Regions from separate parts of the Homo sapiens genome. Here region 2 is linked to region 1. The links come from fine-mapping of genetic effects on gene expression. A gene starts in region 1. The other region holds a variant in brackets. All regions are shown on one strand. Distances are from middle to middle. Region 1 holds the start of MAN1A2 (mannosidase alpha class 1A member 2). Region 2 has its middle 49 kb from the start of TENT5C-DT.

The links.
Region 2: its variant is fine-mapped to the expression of MAN1A2 in gastroesophageal junction (GTEx, PIP 0.90).

What each region holds. Positions count from the first base shown.
Region 1 is chr1:117,362,214-117,372,849 of GRCh38, forward strand. MAN1A2 (mannosidase alpha class 1A member 2) reads left to right here and starts at 5,236. Exons shown (of 13, transcript NM_006699.5): 1 at 5,236-6,272. The coding sequence starts at 5,971. RefSeq lists silencers at 1,492-1,551, 4,472-5,291 and an enhancer at 6,162-6,301.
Region 2 is chr1:117,551,040-117,561,675 of GRCh38, forward strand. No RefSeq gene overlaps it. Among named protein-coding and RNA genes, the nearest start is that of TENT5C-DT, 49 kb to the right of the region's middle. The variant A/G (reference allele first, on the strand shown) is at 5,582.

The sequences.
Region 1 (10,636 bases):
AATCATGTTTTTCTAAATCTTGTAAAAATAAAATATTTCAATCACGATTGGTTAAGATTGTGGTTTCTTTTCTACTCTGATTTCCTATCCGTCACACTGCTCCATTGGTCGCGTGGGTCGGGTGGTGGTGGTGTGGTCTCAGCATTACTAAGACATACTCACTTGTAATGGAATTCAGTTTAGCAAAATCCTTTTTTTTTTTTCCTGAAATGGAGTCTCACTGTGTCACCAGGCTGGAGTGCAGTGGCGCGATCTTGGCTCACTGCAATCTTTGCCTCCCGGGTTCAAGCGATTCTTCTGCCTCAGCCTCCTGAGTAGCTGGGATTACAGGCGCTCGCCACCACACCCAGCTAATTTTTGTATTTTTAGTAGAGACGGGTTTTCACCAGGCTGGCCATGATGGTCTTAATCTCCTGACCTCATGATCCACCTGCCTCGGCCTCCCAAAGTGTTGGGATTACAGGTGTGAGCCACCACACCCGCCCTAAAATCCACTTTAATAATTCATTTTGTATTATTTTTCTTAAAGAGGACTCCTCAAATTAGGTATGCTTCCAGCCCCACAAGACCCAGATCCACCCTTACCAAGGGCTCAAGTGATACCATGTAGATACTTTCTCTCTCACTGTTTCAGCTCTTTTCTTCTCTGTTTGCTTCATTAGTAGCAAACTTCCTCACATGGTGGCAAGAAGGCCACTGGCAGCTCTAAGGTTATAGCACGCTCAGGGCTGGGAATTCTAAGGTAAAGAGATACCACTTTTGCTGATGACATCAGGAAATGACCTAAGGAGGGTTTGGATTAGCTTGGTTTGTGTCACTTGCCCTTTTCCAAACCAATCATTATGGCCAGGGAAATGTGGAACACAGGTTAGTCAAATCTGGGTAACATTCCTGGATCTAGTTAATGGTGGGAGCAAGTGCTATAGTGGGTGGTTGAGAGGTCATCCCAATCTAGACCAATAGACTAAGACCGGGGAAAAGATAGTTTTCTAAAGGAATGCTAGACAAACTGGAATTTCATGTTTCCAAGTCACACAAACACAACCATCAGCAACCTATTATTCTGAATAGAACAAACAAGTCTTTAGAGCATTTTAGAAACAATAGCTCATTTGATCCTTAAACAGTCCTATAAAATAGGTAAGGACTATTATGTTTTATAAATAAGGAAACTCAGTAAGGAGTAGAGCTAGGTTTGAAATCCATGTCTTTTGACTCCTAGTTCAGTACCTCATATACATTTAAAGGGCTTCACTTTATTAATGGATTTAAAGAGGTGAAACATTGCCTGAAACAAGAGGGTACTGCCTGTGAAAGCACGAATACCATCTATGTCTTTTCATTACAGAAACATGTTGGCAATACCCATTAGTCATTCTGAACCCATTTTATTTGCAATGCAATAGCACTGCCCCACCATTTTCACTTTCCCAGCTCAAGAGTGTTGTGAGATTAGGGCCAGGCAAGCTATTTACTGGACGAGTAGAGCAGGAAGTGTTCTGCGTAAATGGCAGGAAAAACCAGCTATGGGTGCCTGCGCATGCTCTGCTCCCTAGGCTGGAGCACGACCCTTCTCTTATGGTTCAAGGCTCAGCTCAGGTGACACTGGATTGGGGAACTTTCCCTAACTTTCCCAATCCACCTCCTCTCACTCTGTGGCACCTTCAGTGTTCCCATAAAGCCCGTGACACTTTGCTCCAACAGCATTCTTCCCACTGTCTTGTAATCGTCAGTGTTCATCTACTCCTCCACACTAGACTGCAAGCTCACTGAGCATAAGGATTCTGACTTATTTCTCCAAATCTCCAGCACCTAGTACAGGATTTGTCAAATAGTAGTCCTCCAACAAATGAGTCTTTTATAAGCAAATGAGCCTCACGTACTTTGGCTCAGAGAAGCAGCCAAGATTTTTTGGCTTTGCCGACTTTCACGGATCTTACTTGAGGGCTTCACAGCACTGAACTTCAGTTTATCCCTGACCTCTGAGGAAAATGCCTCATAGAGGAAAGCAAGATTGGAAGGAGCAAGGCTGAAGCCTGTTATTTCCCTACACATTCAGTGGTCACGTCGAGTAATTTCTCCTCCAATATCTTCCTTGTACATTTTGGGCACCAGTTGGAACAGGTTACATAAGTAAATCAAAAGCCTCTTTTTGCATACCAGCTTTTATTTTTTTCCTGTAGCACTTCAGTTTCACTTAAAACAGAGCTAGGGGTGTATGTGTGTGTGTGTGTGTGTGTGTGTGCATGCGTGTGTGTATAACAGGTGTGAAATGGTTTCAATAATAGAAAAGTCAACACATGGTTGAACAAATACAAGTAACTTCCACATTGCAATACGAGTGGATCTTAGGAGTGGTCCTGTAAATCTGCAGGAGTAAATTTTGTTAGTAATTTATTAATTCTAATTTCTAAAATATTAATTTATATGGATTTGTAAAAGGGAAATCATCACTTTGGAATCTCTGATCAAAGGGTAACTACTCTTTGAAAATGAAATATTCTTTTTAGACTCTCTGGAATGAAATCCTTCCCTGTTGTACGTGTACACACACATACACACATACATAGAACAGGCTGCATACTGTTTCTGCCGATTGCCTTCAGATGGGCCGGTCTGTGTGTTCATCTTGATACTACCGAGTCTACCTATTTGAAATTTGACCTTAACTTTTTCAGGCACCAGTTCCTTTATAATTTTTATTTAATTGTAAATATAATGCAACAGAATACAATGGAGAAAATCATACGTAAAACCAGTATCTTAACAGAATAGTTGCAATCTTTTTCAAATATTCTTTTTCTATGTTTTTAAGTGCATATAATTATAATTAATGGATACATTTGCAACTTTTTTTTTTTTAAACAACATGATTCTTTAAAAACTCAGACTTGCCTTTAGAAGAGTGGATATATGTAATACTATGTATACAGTATTTTCATTGCTGGTGTAGGAGTGTGATAACTGACGGTATCATCAATGACTTTAAAATTGCTGGCTGCATTTGGACATCTGCAATAACCCCTAAATTGTTTTTACTCTCATGAAGGAAAAATGAATTTTGCAAAACAGACAAGCAAAGGAAAAGGGGTCTTCTCCATCAGCAATGAGGTCTTACTTGCTTAAGCTATACTTGTCAACTAGGTTATGTCAGGTTTCATGATTGAAATCTCTTGTGGTTAAGTCTAGTGTTAACCTAGGTAATATTTATTTTTCAAGATTTATATAACTTGCTATTTCATTCAGAGTTCAGTATTTATTTCCCCTGAACTTTTCATGGAAACTAATGATCTCAACAGTAGGAAAACAGTGTGTTCTTCCCCGCCTCCCCACCGCCCCCCCCACTTTGGCTTACGGAGTCTCAACATTAGAGACTTATTCTTAAATTTGGCACATTTTATAAAGACATATTGGGAAGGCTAAAAGTTTCTTATATCTACTCTTCACAAATGTTCAACATAAATCTCACTAGGGACCGGGCACTCCTTGCTTACCAGTCTCCCTGGGTGAACTGGTGAGAGGTGGCCCTCAATATTTTTACTTTTTATTTGGTGAAGCAGGATCAATGACAATGACTTTTGTCATGTGGTAGGCAGTTAGATATGCAGAGCTTCTAGAAATAATGCAGACTGGGAGACTGGAATGTAGTTACAAGTGTGCCAATGAACATGAGACTTTTCTGCTTGATTTTTAAGCTAAGGCTGACTTACTCTCCTGACATTTAAGGGCCTCCTCTCCAATTCCCAGTCATCAGTAAAGGATGTGTACAGGGAATGACAATATTAGAACAAAAACAACCTGCAAGTAAATCGGATGCAAGAGTCTATGTATCTTGCAAGGAAATCTTTTGCACTTAATCACAACATGGCTCTCCTCAATACTACGGAGAACAGAATTGATTCAGATTGTTTTTAAGCCTGAACGTAAACAATATTGTCGCCTTTTTGGGTTTCAGCACCTCCTTATTCATCCATTTTCTCTTTTATGGGAAGGGGGTTGATGAGGTGTGTGAAGATGATAGAACGTGCCCCAGAAACTGAACAATGAAGAGACGCCTGTCATATCGGGGGTACCTAGATTCCTCTGAAAGGAAGCCCAGCTGAAGGAGCAGGGTCACCACTTTATTTTAAAAACGTAACATGGCACATGTTGGTGCTCTATTAATCGAGCCTCGGGGGCCCAATAACGTGAGCATGGGCTGCTGCGTGGAAGTTTGAGACCCTGTTGCTGAATCCTCGGGCCTGACGGTCTATCGCTGAAGACAAGACTTCCAAAGAATCACAGTAAACGTTAACCTAAGCCATCAGAAGCCATTAACTCCGGTGACACTACATTTCAGCGAAACCTTCGCGACCCAACCCCTCGCTCCCTCTCGCCCAAACGCTGGGTCAACCCCACGAACTGGCGGTGGCAAGGCCCTGGGCACCGGTGAAGTTCTCGTGGCAGCGCAGATCGGCGACCTTCTCTTCTTTCGCGCTCAGACGGCGGCGGCAGCAGTACGCTTTCGGGCTGCTGGAGCCGGCAGCGGCGCGAGGCCGGAGCCCGGGCAGCCAGGCTGGGTGGGGGAGGGGCGGCGGCAGCGGAGCCGGGAGCGTGCGCGCGCACCTCACACTCCGCCGCCCGGGGACGCCCACTCGCGAGCCGGGGCCGGTAGGCCGGCCCGGGTCCCATCGCCCCCGCCCTCCGGTTCCTCTCCGGCGTGAGCCCAACGGGTGTCGGCCCAGCAGCTGCTGCGCTCACCAGGCCTGGGGAGGCAGGGTACGGGGACCGGGCCGCAGCCCCGAGCGGCGTGGGCGCGCTGCCTCTCTGGCAGCCGCCGCCAGAGCCAGCAGCTGCGAGCCACCGGAGGCGGCGCGGAGGAGGCCCCCGCGGCCGGGCAGGAAGGAGACGCGGCCGACCTCTGCCCGCCCGAGGCGCGGCTGCTCCCGCGCGCCCAGGCCCTCCCGCCGCTCCAGGGCTGAGTGAGGAATGAGCCGGCGCCTACCCCGGGCTCTCGGAGCGTGGGCCCCGGCTCGGCTTCTTAGGCGCGAGGGCTCGGCCACTGCGGCCGGCGGCCTAGCTCGGGGAGCAGGCGCCGGGGTTCACTGAACCGGCCGCGGAGAGGAGGAGGAGGAGGAGGAAGAGGAGGAGGAGGAGGAGGAGGAGCTCGGCGGGGGCGGCCGCCGCGCCTCCCCTCCCCCAGGACACGCCGGGGCTTCTCAGTGGCCGCCGGAGGAGGAAGTTCCGCTCCCTGACAGACCCGTGCGGTAGCAACAGCGGCGGCGGCCGCGGCGGCTGGCCGGACTCAGGTGTTTCGGACGCTATTGCCCTTCGCGCCAGCCGTCGAGTGGGCAGCAGCGGGACTCAGCCGGGCGCCAGGTTCCTGCCAGGCAGCGCCGGGAAGCGCGGGCGGCCGAGAACTCCTTCCTGCTACTTCGCCCAGCGCCGCTGCTTCGGCTTCCCAGCGAAGTGGGAGACCTTCCTCCCTGTTTGCAGACGTCCGTGGGAGACCCTTATTTTTTCCACCGCTAAGGTTAAGAGATTCTGGAATAGAAGCGTCGAAGGAGATCAAGTGAACCTTCTACAACTCCTCGGATGTCGCCAGTCTCCCTTTCGGGGCGGAAGACTACGTTTGAGCATCTCACTGAGGTGCAGGAATGGAAGAACCCACCTTGCAGCTTTTCTGCAGTGTGGCTTGCCTGATCTACCCCTAGGAATGAAGAGGAGGCTTGTAATAATCCGATGAAGTACAGATGTTGAAGAGGATATCGCAGGACCTAAACTTGTGATCGTTTGGGGGAGGTCACACACGTTTCTGAGTGGGAATGGATGGGCGTGAATGACGTGCCCTCTTAAAAAGCACAACAGTCCTTTAAGAGGAGCAAAATTGAGTTTTCCCATTTTGGCCAAGATTTTGAAGACAGTTCAATGTATTCTACATTTGACATAAGATGAGAACTTTCTAAAGTATTCTCTCCAAGAGCGTAAACGATGACTACCCCAGCCCTGCTGCCCCTCTCTGGACGTAGGATACCACCTCTGAACCTGGGGCCGCCTTCCTTCCCACATCACAGGGCTACCTTGAGACTTTCTGAGAAGTTTATTCTTCTCCTTATTCTTAGTGCCTTCATCACTCTGTGTTTTGGGGCATTCTTTTTCCTTCCAGACTCTTCAAAACACAAACGCTTTGATTTGGGTTTAGAAGATGTGTTAATTCCACATGTAGATGCCGGTAAAGGGGCTAAAAACCCCGGAGTCTTCCTGATCCATGGACCCGATGAACATAGACACAGGTTTGTTTATTTCAGAAGTTCTGGTACTAACATTTGGCAGAGCAAGGTACGGTGATTGGATCGAATCTGTCTTTTTTTTTTCTTGCAGTAAAATGTAATTTTTCGAGTCATAAATATTGTATTGTTACTTCAAGACTGGCTGAATAAAACCATAGACTGGAGGGACTCTACCTCCAGTCTATGGTAGAGTCCATAGACTGGTAGGACTGGAGTCCTACCTAAGTCGTTCTTCTCTTCGGTTTTATATAAGAAAAACATTTGCGTTCAGAGTTGTGTCTAATGTGGACATCTGGGAAGGGAGGTATGAAAACTTAACCTAAAGAAATGGTGACATAAGCTGTGCCTGCATTTATTAATAACGTGTTGGAGTCAGTCATTGTGCCACCATGTGAAATCAAAGCATCGAACCTTGACAGCTCTTTTGGGTGTGCTCTCCCAGAGGGCTCTCGTTTTCTGGCTTGTAGTTGAAGCTTAGTAGTGAGTCAGCTTTTTAGGATGACAAACGTGGGCAGAATATACCTGTCATTTCTTAACGTGAAAATATCCTGATTTTTGTTCTTTTTTTGGGGATGTGTGTTGGTGCTGTATATGAAATCAGTTAAGTTAAAAGGTATTGAATCCTAAGTTATTGCACTTTGTGAGGCTTGTAGACAAGATTTATTTTTGTGAAACTTAATTTTGCTCTCTCTTTTAATGTAATAGATGGACTGTGTCAAGCAACTATTGGAATTTGGTTGATTAAGGGGTTCACATTCTTTCAGATCACTAAATCTAAAGTGAGCTCTGGGGAGAGCATAGCCAAACTAGGATAAAATGGGAGCTCTAGTTACAATTTTTATAATTTTTATATTTGTACTCAAGAGTTTGGGAAAGTAGTTGACTTTTCTTAAACCTGCCATCTTTTCCTTGTTTCTTAAAATAATTCTTGAGTATGTGGGAAAAAAAATCATGTGCTTGAATTCATTTCCCATCTGATGATAGTTTTAACTTTTTGTCAAGCACCGAAAAAGCTTAGGTTCACGTGTAAGCCTACATTAAATATTTGGGAAAATGCACTGTTTTATGAGAACTGGTTTTTCTTTTTTTCTCAACCTAGTTAATTCATTACTTGTGTGATGGTTCTTTGACTTTTGGATGAATTTTATGGAGTAGTTACTTCTAATATTGTTTCATGCCATTCTTTTGTAACTAAGTTAATTTGGAATTTTTGCCATTTTCGACTACTGTACTCCTGTATTTGTTTCTTTAATTTTGCACTTTGCTTGTTGTGACTTTAAGAAAACACTAATATGATCTGTGAAATATGTTACTGAAAAATTAACGGTGAAAGTAGTTTTCCTTGAAAATCTTATTTCGCATGGTATTTGTATAACATATGAAATATATTGAAAAAATGTGTTAAGGCTGTTTTTAGAGCTGTTTCACAACAGCCACACATTAACATTACTTAGCTCTATTATTAATAGTATCTGTCATGTACTAAGCAGTTTAAAAAATACATTTTGAATGGTCTAAAAGTTTAAAATAATATGACCACATTTTAGTTTAAAAACATTTACACAAAAATTCTCAGTAAATGGAGTTAAAATATGAAATTTGAATGAAAATACAGATATGTGCCTTTTATTCACATTTTTAACAGTCTGTATAAATAGTTTAAACAAGAATTCTTAAATTTATGAAGCCCTTGGATATATATGCATATGTATTTAGCTATCTAAAACTATTGGGTTCCTGAGTTTGGAATGAGAGATTGGTTATTGTTCTGATAGCAGGGGTGGTTTGTGAGCCATGCCCTGAGTTTTGGCTAGTAAGAGTCTGGATAGCAAGTGATACATGTGAGTCTGGATAGATTCCAATGCAGTTTTTGGAATCTATTCGGTTCCTGAGTTTTGGAAAACGAGAATTCAAATAGAGTTCAGGTGGCAAAGGATCCTTGTGTTATCTCTTTGTATTTCTGTGGTTATATCAGTTGACATTTGCTTTAGCGTATTATTTGCTGTTGTTTACTATATCAGAAAAGAGTCTGTAGTAATAAACTTTCTTTTACTTTGAGCAAGGAAATACTTTTTAAATTAAGTGTATGTTTAAAATGTGGAAACAGAAAACATCAAATGTATAAACATTAACTTATTTAAAAATAATTCAGAAAAATAGCACTTTTACAGTTGGTACTAAGATCATATGTATTTTGGGTATGGGTCAGAACTTACCTAATTTAGAAGAAACAAATTGACAGTTTATCTTCATTTAGTGTGTGTGTGTGTGTGTGTGTGTGTGTGTAAGGGTACAGGATAGAGGGCTGAGGAATGTTACTTTAACTAATAAGTAATGGAAAATAAGTCATGGTCACCATTTCTTATTTGCAGTACTTAAGAGATACTTGTTTAGTTAGTATTTCTTTATTAATAGATTAGTATAATAATTTGGTGTTTAAGTTCTGGAGTCAGACTGTATAGATTCATACCCTAGCTTGCCACTGATTAGATTTATGATACTGAGAAATTTTAAAACTCTATATTGTTTCCTTTGTATCACAGTGGCATGTATCTACTTTACAGATTGTTTTATTGAAAGAGATAGTACATGCAAAGCACTCAACATAGTTCCTGGCATTTAGTAAATGATCAATAAATGTTAACTATTATTATCATCAGTGATTATAATTGTAATGGAATATTTTTATTCGGAATCTACTTTCCTTTAAATACTGTATATTTTCTGAAAAGTAGGGTACAGTTTGATTAATATTTAGAAGTATACTAGGATCTTATTGTCTAAAGGAACATTTTATAACCAAACTGGTTGGCAACAAATGTATGCCTACTGTGGCAGGCCCCGCTTTCATGAAACTTTCAATCTAGGGAGAGATGATGGGCATTAAATAAATAATTTTGTTTTTGAGGTGTGATGAATGTTACGAAGTTGTACTCAGTGCTTTCAGAGCAAGGAATGTGTGACCTAGTCTATAGAGTTGGGGGTGGAGGGGCAGTGGGAATAAGGAAGACTTCATTGAGAAAGTGTGCCTCAGAAACGTAGAATGAGTAGGAGATTGCTTAATGAAGTGGAATTGGAGGTTGAGGGGAGGTTGAGGGTCAAAGCAGAAGACACAACATGTGTGAGAGCCCTAAGGAAAAAAAGCTTGGCATCACTAAGAATCTGAGAAATGTTAAGTATGGCTGTTGCAGAGGGTGTGGGTCTGGGTGATGAGACTAGATGAGAGGTCAGGTTTGGCCTGCTTACAAGTTTTTTGGCCTCCTTATTGTTGTTACAAAAGTTTGAATTAGTTGTCAGCATTCACAGATCAGGAGATTTCATGTTAAAGTCTGGATTTCTGATCTTTCTTGAAAAATTAGAGGTTATGGCAACATCCAGTGTATTTTCAGATGGTAATATTCAAGCCACAACCCAGTAGCAGCTGCTCCCTTGGGAGGGGGACGGGGGCGGGCATGTGCCACTCAGAGTGCGAAATAAGTAAATACAAATCAATCAATATTTAACCTGGTTGTTGTTGAGTTTGCAAATTCTAGTCAGGATTCTAGAGAGTTTGTAGTTAAATATTTTGGTTTTTATCATAAATACTAAGAGAAGTTATTGAAGGATTGTAATAAAAGCAAGGGAATGACATGATCATTTTAAATTAAAAAAATTAAATAATCACTTTGGTTGCAATGATTACTTACTGGATGGTAAGAAGCAGGAGGATAACAAGTTAAGAGGGGCTGGGTCACAGAGGATATATTGGCTTAGATCGCAGTGGTGATAGTGGAGAATGAGATAAATTAGTGGAGAAAAGTGGTTGAGTCAAGAGGTGTTAAACTATTAAGTTTCACAGAAAATGGTGGTTGGTTAAATATGGGGCCAAAATAGAAAGAAAAGTGAGTCCAAGATAATGTCTAGGTTTCTGGGTGACATGGCCATGGATTAGTAAGAAATACATACTATATTTAATTAATGCCCTAATTTATAGATAATAGTGGTATTACATGAATTTAGTATATTTTCATGAGGAAACCAATATGTTCCCTTCTATTAAGTAGTTCATAAATAATCCAGAATTTTCAAACACTGTAGATACACTTTATAGATGATAAGGATATATCAAATGTGTAGTTTGGTGTTGATTATGGTTATTTATAGTATCTATGATTTTGCAGTACCCAAAACCAGAAGTTGTTATAATATACATGTTGTTATACGCTAATATACATAAAGTAATATACGTAAGTATACTTTGTGTACATAATAGATCTCAATAATTAAAAACTTTTTTTTTTAAAACTGACATTTGTTTTATATAATGGCATTTATAGATGGGCTTTGTGAGTTAAAAAAAAAAAAACCCAGCTTATGAGCTGTTTATC
Region 2 (10,636 bases), 190 kb after region 1:
CACCCAGCTAAAAATCCATCATCTTTAATTACTGAAAATTTATCATAGTCTATTGCAACTCTTTGAACAAGTATATTATTTACATTTTTATCCTCCAAAGACTCAAAACTAAAAAAACTTAAAGAACTCTTGTGATGTCTGTTACTTTGATATTTTATCAGCAAGAAAAATATGTGTTTTGTTTACCTCAGTTTTTTCTAAAATTGTGAAATGTATTATTTGTATCTTTGTTATGTCTACATTGAAGATGATTAATCATGGATGATGTTGTACATGGTTTTGGAGTTTTTTCTTTTCATGAAATGTTGAGAGGGCAAAGCATATCCTCACAAGCTGTGACAAATTTTTTTGAAATACCTTCGGCCTAAAGGGAAATAACAAAAAGTTAAATATAGTTATTAAAGTTTATTTTGTTAGTGTTTTGAGTGCTAGTACCTCAAACAATTCTATAATGATGTGAATTATGATATAATCTAATCTTTGTTATTCTTTCTTGTATCATTTAGTTTTTAATTAACATTTTATTCAAAAAGGATATGAAGTTCTTCCTATGTTTATGTCACGAATCCACTCTTTTTTAACCTTCAAATCAACACTCTGTTTCCTATATATTCAGCTATTTGGCTGTTTTTAATAATTGTTTTCATATGTAAAATTGCTCATTACTTTTTATAGCATTTCAATTTTTTTAATAGTTTGAGGGGGTACCGATGCAGGTTCGCTTCATGGATATGTTGTGTAATGGTGAAGTTTGGGTTTCCAGCGTGTCCATCACCCCGATAGTAAACACTGTACCCAACAGGTAATTTTTCAACCCTTACCCCCTCCTACTGTTACCACTTTTGAAGTCCCCAGTGTCTGTTAGTTCCTTCTCTATGTCCATGTGTACCCACTGGTTAGCTCCCTTTATAAGTGAGAGCATGTAGTATTTGATTATCTGTTTCTGAGTTATTTCACTTATAGTAATGGCCTCCAACTCCATTTATGTTGCTGCAAAAGACATAATTTCATTTTTGTGGCTGTGTAGCACTCCATCGTGTGTGTGTGTGTATGTGTGTGTGTGTGTATATATATATAAATACAATTACCACATTTTTTATCCAGTCATCTGTAGATGGACACTTAGGTTGATTCCATGACTTTGCTATTGTGAATAGTGCTGCAATAAACATATGAAAAACTATACCATGCAAACAGAAAACAAAAATGAGCAGGAGTAGCTATATTTATGTCAGATAAAACAGACTTTAAATCAATAACTGTAAAAAAGGACAAAAGTTATTATATAATGACAAATGGTTCAATTTAACAAGAAGATATAACTATCCCAAATATATATGCACCCAATACCAAAGCACCAAGATCCATAAAACAAATACTACTAGACCTAAGAAAAGAGACAGCAATGCAATAATGGTGGGGAACTTTATCACCCCACTGACAGGACTAGACAGATCATCAAGGCAAAAAATCAGCAAAGTCTTAAACTGGACTCTAGGCCAAATGGACCTACCTAATAGACATTTACAGAACATTCTACCCAACAACTGCAAAATATACATTTTTCTTATCTGAATGTGGAACATTCTGGAAAATAGACCATATTCTTGGCCATAAGGCAAGTCTCAATAAATTTTTAAAAAATCATATGAAATATCTTTTTAGACCACTGTGAAATAAAATTAGAACTCAATATCAAGAGGAGCTCTCTAAAGTATTTGAATATATGGAAACTAAACAAGTTGCTCCTGAATGATCTTTGAGTAAATGATGAAATTAATACAGAAATTAAAAAGATGGAAACAAATGAAAAGAGACACAACACACCAAAACTTCTGGGATATAGCAAAAGCAGTGCTGGAAGCTTATAGTGTTAAATGGCTACATTAAAAAGATAGAAAGACCTAAAATCAACAACCTAATGTCACACCTCAAGGAACTAGAAAAATAAAAACAAACCAAACCAACAGCTAGCAGAAGAAAAAGAAATAGCAAAGATTAGAGCAGAATTAAGTGAGGTTGAGACAAAAAAAAAAAAAAAAAAAAACATGATATGAAGGATCAATGAAACAAAAAGTTGGTTCTTTGAAAAGATAAACATAATTGATAGACCACTGGCTAGACTAGCCAAGAAAAAGAGAGAGAAGATTCAAATAAACACAATCAGAAATCATAAAGGTGACATTACAATTGATACCACAGAAATACAAAAGATCAATTGAGACTACTTTGTACATCTCTATGCTCACAAACTAGAAACCCTAGGGGAAATGGATACATTCCTGGAAATGTACTACCTTCCAAGACTGAACTAGGAAGAAATAGAAATCCTGAACAGACCAATAGCGAGTAATGAAATTGACTAGTAATAAAAAATTTCCTGACCAAGAAAAGCCCAGGGCCAGATGAATTCACAGCCAAATTTTACCAGATGTTCAATTTTTGAATAATACAAATGCATTTTGTGTTTGGGAGTACATGTTCAAGTAACTGATAGATTTACAATGTATAAAGCACACAAGTAGATTCTCACTCCAAAAGTCATCTAAAGTGACTACTGATATTTGAAGGTGAATATTCTAATATTAGCAATAATTTGAATGGTGTGGCTTATTCACATTACTGATGATTCAGCACTAATTAGATATGGTGGTAACCCTGAAGGTCACAAGATTATTGATTAGTAAAAATTTATAGATGCCAGAAATTATGTTTAAGTATGCATTTGGCTTTTTGGCCTTTTTAAGGCTGAGGCTTAATACCAAGGCCAGAATTGAACTATATGCACCCTATTCATACTATGCACCATTTCTTAGGAGGTCTTTTACCAAAACAAAAGTATAAACCAAGAAAGTGGCTTCACATCTCCTATAGGTTCTGCATCAATCAAGTTAGTACTAAATTATGCCTTGCTTTGCTTAATATTTTTATTATTTATTTTTAGACAGGGTCTCACTCTGTTGCTAGGCTGAGTGCAGTGGCAAAATCATGCCGTATTGCAGTCTCAACCTCCCTGGTTCAAGTGATCCTCCCACCTCAGCCTCCTGAATAGCTGGGACTAAAGGAGCATGCCAGCATGTCTGGCTAATTTTTTGTATTTTTGTAGAGACGGGGCTTCACCATGTTGCCCAGGCTGGTCTCGATATCCTGGGCTCAGGCAATCTGGCTACCTTGGCCTCCCAAAGTGTTGGGAGTACAGGTATGAGCCACTGTACCTGGTCACTGCTTAATGTTTGTATAACTTAAACCTACCAACCTATTAATCTCTTTTAAAACTGTAAATGTGTTGTGGGCAGAAACCTTATCTTAGTTGTGTTTTGCCTCTTTAATTTTATAGGGAAATAATGATAATTTGGTAATTTTCCTCTAAGGATTATTTTTTTATTATTATTATTATACTTTAAGTTCTGGGATACATGTCCAGAACATGCAGGTTTGTTACATAGGTATACATGTGCCATGGTGGTTTGCTGCACCCATCAACCCATCATCTACATTAGGTATTTCTCCTAATGCTATCCCCCCACCAGCCTCTCACCCCCATAACTGGCCCCGATGTGTGATGTTCCCCTCCCTGTGTCCATGTGTTCTTATTGTTCAACTACCACTTATGAGTGAGAACATGTGGTGTTTGGTTTTCTGTTCCTGTGTTAGTTTGCTGAGAATGATGGTTTTCAGCTTCATCCATGTCCCTGCAAAGGACATGAACTCATCCTTTCTTATGGCTGCATAATATTCCATGATGTATATGTGCCACATTTTCTTAATCCAGTCTATCACTGATGGGCATTTGGGTTGGTTCCAAATCTTTGCTATTGTGAATAGTTCTGCAATAAACATATGTGTGCATGTGTCTTTATAGAATGATTTATAATCCTTTGGGTATATACCCAGTAGTGGGATTGCTGGGTCAAATGGTATTTCTGGTTCTAGATCCTTGAGGAATCACACACTGTCTTCCACAATGGTTGAACTAATTTACACTCCCACCAACGGTGTAAAAGCGTTCCTATTTTTCCACATCCTCTTCAGCATCTGTTGTTTCCTGACTTTTTAATAATCACCATTCTAACTGGTATGAGATGGTATGACCTTTTGGTTTTGATTTGCATTTCTCTAATGACCAATTATGATGAGCTTTTTTTCATATGTTTGTTGGCCGCATAAATGTCTTCTTTTGAGAAGTGTCTGTTCATATCCTTTGCCCACTTTTTGATGGGGTTGTTTGTTTTTTTCTTGTAAATTTGTTTAAGTTCCTTGTGATTCTAGATATTAGCCATTTGTCAGATGGATAGGTTGAAAAGAAGAAGATATGTAATTCAGGAAACAGTTTCAACTTAAGAGACAGAAGGAGAAAAACTCAAAATGACGGTGAAAGGAGATTTCAGGATAACAGCTGTGTACGAAGTATAGATGTCAACCAGTCCAGAGTGGAGTATGGTCAAATGGATCCAGAGATAGAGCTCCAGGAAGTGGAAAATGATGGAATACCCTCATTTATTTGAGTGATTGAGAGGAGTTTTCAGTGGATAGGTGAAAGCTGGGGTTGTATCAGTGATAAGTGTATAGAAAACTATATGAGATGCAAGCTCCCTACATCTCTTGTAGCTATTCTTGAAGCTAGGCCAACTAGCCATTCCTTCAGAGTTTTTCTCCTTCCGTCTCTTCCAGGGTTGGATAAAACACTACAGCACAGGGTGTGAGATCTAGGATCTCAAGTGGGCAGCCCATGAAGGGACTGGGTTAATGCAATCTAGAAGTACAAGGGAATACATTCACATGAGATGAATTTTACCAAACAAGAATCCAGAGACAAGAAGGAGCCTGGAGGACAAATCACTTTTCTTCTTTTCTTCTATGGTGGACATTGAAGCATGATTTATTCTTGCAACCCATCTGGAGAAGTCTCGGGTGCCAAATGAACAGACCTGCTGAACAACCCGCTGTGTCACTAAGTGGTTCTTTATGCAGCAGCAGCCAAGTGCAGTAACATGTCATTTTGCATTGCTTCACGTCTTTATTTGCCTCCCTTCCTTTTTCCTCAACCTCAGTGATCTGGATTTGCATCTCCCAAATAGAGTAACAGCACTTTAATTTTTGCTTCAGACTCTACTTTTTAGAGGCTAAGATTAAAACTAAGCAAATAATTAAAGAAGAAACTTCAAAGAAAACTAAAAGTAGGGCAAGAAAGAAAAAATAATAGGGTGGCTAGTATTATTATTATTAGGCTCAGTCCTTAATAGAGTTTAGTAGTAACATTAGAAATATTAAATATCCAACAATTGAGATATAGCTACACTGGAAGAATAGGGTAAGGGAAGAGATATTGGTCATGTAGTAGTGGTGGTTAAACAGAAATAAATCCTTATCTTCACTAGTAAAAAGTCAATTAGACTGAAAAACCAAAAAAGTTAAAGTTAAAAAAGAAAAGAAAACTAATGGAATTGAAAGGATTTCCCTCTTGAGAAAAGGAAATAGGGAGTTGATAGTTCCTCTTTTTTAAGTCTTACTGAATTAAGTCTGACTCTTCTATCATTTAAGTCTTACTGAATTAAGTCTAACTGACTCTTCTATCATGTAC[A/G]CTTATAACATTGATTTTAAAAAACACATTTCAAATGCTAGTTACTGATGAAGGCATGTGGTTTTATTGTTGTAAGCTATAAAATCAAACTAAGGTAGATATTTAAACTCTGAAGAAACTTCAGTTTTGTGAAGTGACTGCACATTTTACACTTCCTCTAGCTATGTATAAGATCTTATCCTAGCTGTTCCACATCCTCTCCAACATTTATTGTTGTTGATCTCTTTTTATTTTAGCATTTGGTATTGTCTTTTTCATTTCCGTCATTCCTGTTGATATGTACTGATATCTCATTGTGGTTTTAATTTGCATTTTGCCTAATGCCTAATGAGGTTGAGCATTTTGTCATGGGCATCATGGGCTTACTGGCCATTGGTCCCTCTTCTTTTATGTTCTTTTTAATTGACTTGTTTCATTCTTTAGTTATAGGAATCTTTATGCATGCACATACAAGTCATTTGTCAATGTTATGTGTTGCAAATATTTTCTCCCAACCTGTAACTTAAGTATTTTCTAAATTGTGTCTTTTAGTTAGAAAAATTTTTAAAATTTTGCTGAAATTGCAATTTAGCAATTTTTTCTTTTATGGCTAATATTTTCTGAATCCTCTGGAGAAAATTTTTTTCTTCTCTAAGGTCATGAAGACATTCTTCAGTGTTTCTTTCTAGTAACTTTCTAGCTTTTCCATTTAGGTCTGTGGCCCATTTATTGATGTGATTTTCCTTTCCTCATGTATCAGTATTCTATGCTGCATAACAAATTACTACAAATATAGTGATGGACAACAGTGAACATTAATTATCTCACAGTTTCTGTAGGCAGGAGTCCAGGCACAGGTTGGCTGAGACCTCCACTCAGGGCCTCACAAGAATAGAATCAAAATTGCCATCGGTTTTTGTTCCTTTCCAGAGCTTGGGGTCCTCTTCTATGCTGACATGGTCGTTGGCAGAATTCAGTTGTGGCTGAGGTCCCACTTTCTTGATGGCTGTGAGCAAGGGGCTGCTCTCAGTTTCTAGAGGCCCCTGTAGCTCAAGGGAGAGTCTCTCATTCCAGTTGGCTAAGATGGAGTCTTATGCAAAGTAACATAATCATAGAGGTGACATCCATCACTGGTGCCGTACTCTGTTGGTTAGAAATAGGTCATAGATCCTGCCCACACTCAAGAGGAGAGGGTGTAGAGCCAGGAGGCAGAGATCATAAGGACCATTTAGAATTCTGCCTACCTCACCCCATCACATTTCCCATATGACCTAGTACTTCCCCTCTGTATTAGTTCATTTTCATGCTGCTGATAAAGACATACCTGAGATTGGGCAATTTACCAAAGAAAGAGATTTACTGGACTTACAGTTCCATGTGACTGGGGAGGTCTCACGATCATGGCAGAAGGTGAAAGGCACATCTCACATGGAGACAGACAAGAGAAGAGAGCTTGTGCAGGGAAGTTCCCCCTTTTAAAACTATCAGATCTCATGAGACTTATTCACTATCATGAGACAATACGTGAAACACCAGCCCCCATGATTCAGTTACCTCCCACTGGATCCCTCCCACAACATGTGGGAATTCAAGATGAGATTTGGATGGGGACACAGCCAAACTATATCATTCTGACCCTGGCCCCTCCCAAATCTCATGTCCTCACATTTCAAAACCAATCATGCCTTCCCAACAGTCCCCCAAAGTCTTAACTCATTTCAGCATTAACTCAAAAGTCCACAGTCCAAAGTCTTTGGACAAGGCAAGTCCCTTCTGCCTATGAGCCTATAAAATCTAAAGCAAGCTAGTTACTTCCTAGATACAATGGGGGCACAGGCATTGGGTAAATACAGCCATTCCAAATGGGAGAAATTGGCCAAAACAAAGGGGTTACAGGGCCCATGCAAGTCCAAAATCTAGCAGGGCATTCAAATCTTAAAGATCCAAAATCATCTCCTTTAACTCCATGTCTCACATCCAGGTCATGCTGATGCAAGAGGTGGATTCCCATGGTCTTTGACAGCTCCACCCCTGTGGCTTTGCAGGGTACAGCCTCCCTTCTGGCTGCTTTCATGGGCTGGCACTGAGTGTCTGTGGCTTTTCTAGGTGCATGGTGCAAGCTGTCAGTAGATCTACCATTCTGAGGTCTGGAGGATGGTGGCCCTCCTCTCACAGCTCCACTAGGTGGTGCCCCAGTAGGGGGGCTCTGACCCCATATTTTCCTTCCACACTGTCCTAGCAGAAGTTCTCCATGGGAGCCCTGCCCCTGCAACAAATTTCTGCCTGGACATCCAGGCATTTCTGTACATCTTCTGAAATCTAGGTGGAGGTTCCCAATCCCCAATTTTTGACTTCTGTGCACTCGCAGGCTCAACACCGTGTGAGAGCTACCAAGGCTTGGGACTTGCACTCTCTGAAGTCATGGCCTAACCTCTACATTGGCCCCTTTTAGCCATGGCTGGAGCAGCTGGGACACAGGTCACCAAGTCCCTAGGCTGCACATAGCACAGGGACCCTGGGCCCAGCCCATGAAACCACTTTTTCCTCCTAGGCCTCTGAGCCTGTGATGGGAGGAGCTGACATGAAAACCTCTGACATGCCTTGGAGACATTTTCCCCATTGTCTTGGGGATGAACATTCGGCTCCCTGTTACTTATGCAAATTTCTACAGCCAGCTTGAATTTCTCCTCAGAAAATGGGCTTTGCTTTTCTGTCACATTGTCAGGCTGCAAATTTTCCACTCTGCTTTATGCTCTTTGTGCTCTGCTTCTCTCATAAAACTGAATGCCTTAAACAGCACCCAGGTCGCCTCTTGAATGCTTTTCTGCCTGGAAACCTCTTCCGCCAGATAGCCTAAATCATTTCTCTCAAGTTCAAAGTTCCACAAATCTCTAGGGCAAGGGAAAAATGCCACCAGTCTCTTTACTAAAACATAACAGGAGTCACCTTTGCTCCAGTTCCCAAGTTCCTCATGTCCATCTGAGACCACCTCAGCCTGTACTTTATTGTTCATATCGCTATCAGCATTTTGGGCAAAGCCATTCACAACAAGTTCCTCATCTCCATCTGAGACCACCTCAGCTTGGACTTTATTGTCCATATTGCTATCAGCATTTTGGGCAAAGCCATTCAACAAGTTCTAGGAAGTTCCAAACTTTCCCACATTTTCCTGTCTTCTTCTGATCCCTCCAAACTGTTCCAACCTCTACCTGTTACGCAGTTCCAAAGTCGCTTCCACATTTTGGGGTATCTTTTTCAGCAATGCCCCACTCTACTGGTACCAATTTACTGTATTAGTCCATTTTCACACTGCTGATAAAGACATACCCAAGACTGGACAATCTGCAAAAGAAAGAGGTTTATTGAACTTATAGTTCCACGTGGGTGAGGAGGCCTCACAATCATGGCAGAAGGTAAAAGGCATGTCTCACATGGTGGCAGATAAGAGAAGAGAGTTTGTGCAGAGAAGCTCCCCTTTTTAAAACCATCAGATCTTGTGAGACTTATTCATTATTACGAGAACAACATGGGAAAGACCTTCCGCCATGATTCCATTACCTTCCACCAGGTCCCTCCCATAACAAGTGGGAATTCAAGATAAGATTTTGAGGGGGTGGACACAGCCAAACCATATCACCCTCGTAGGTATTTACCCAAGAGAAATGAAAGCATATGTCCACAAAAACCTGAACACAAATTGTCATCAGGACTTTGTTCAAAATAGCCAAAAACTATAAACAACTTGTATGTCTAACAACAGAAGAATGGAAAAGCAAACTGTGATATGTTCATGCAATGAAATACTAGTTAGCCACAAAAAGGAATGAACTGCCAATATACATTTTGATATAGATGAATCCAAAAAATATGCTGGGTGAAAGAAGCTGGCCACAAAAAAGTACCCATGATATGAACTCAATTATATAAAGTTTGAGAAGAGGTAAAACTAACCTATGATGATAGAAATCAGATCAGTGGTTGCTTAGGAGGTAGAATTGACTAGGAGGGGGCATGAGGCAACTTTCTGGAATAATGGAAATGTTCTGTGTCTTGATATGCATTCATTAAAACTGACAAGTTTGAGGTTCACTATATGTAAAGTATACCTCAATTAAAAGGCATACATTATTTCAGAGCAAGCATGTATTGGACATGGGATTTTGGCAGGGGTCATTAAACTTTAGTGTATATAGGAATCATTTGGGGTGCTTTTTAAACGTGCAGATCCCTAGGCTTCACCCTAAAGATTCTGATCTAGGTCATCTGCAGTGGTGCCAGGGATCTGCATTTTTAATAAACAATTCAGGTTATTCTGGCACTGCTGGCCCCTGGAATAACCTTGGAGGAACACTGTTTAAGACATGTGCTCTCACTAGCTGGCTCTCTCCCTCCCTCATTCTCATCCTGAGCAGGGGCTTCTCATAGCTATCATGCCATGGCAGGGGGATCTAGGACAAATTGCTCAAATCTCAAGCAGAGAGAGGAGGAGAGACAGCTTGTTGTGCCTCTGGTGGGCCAAGGTACTCCTTACTCCCTGAATTTTTATATATCTTGGAGGGGAACTCTCTTGCATGAAGTCTCCCTGGGCACCAGTGAAGAAAGCTCAGGTGTGTACTGCCTGGGCTGTGCCTCAGACAGGCTGGAGAAGGAGCGGCTGCCTCCTCCCCACTTGCTCATGACCAGCCCCAGCCCTGGCCTAGGGGTACAGGCTTCACTGAGCATCAGCTCAACTGTAGCTGGGCCCGGAGCCCAGCCAGTCTCAGAATGGGTGCTCTGAGAGTGTCATCTGGGGAGCCTTGAGGCTCCCAGGGGCTCCATGGCTACACTTTTGGTTTGGCCCAAGATTAAGTTTTACTGTTGCTCCACAGTGCACATGAGACTTTTGTCCATGAGGCCTTCTCAAAGGTAGAGCCGTCTTTTCAGAAACTCATGGCAGACAGCAATGGGTGGACAGGGGTTGTGGGGCCCTGTGTCCATCTGCAGTGACCACAAGATGGAAAGTGATGAGCCCAGGCAGGTGCTGTGTGAGTCAGATTCAATGTGTACTTCTCATCCCAAGGCCACTCTTGGCATCAG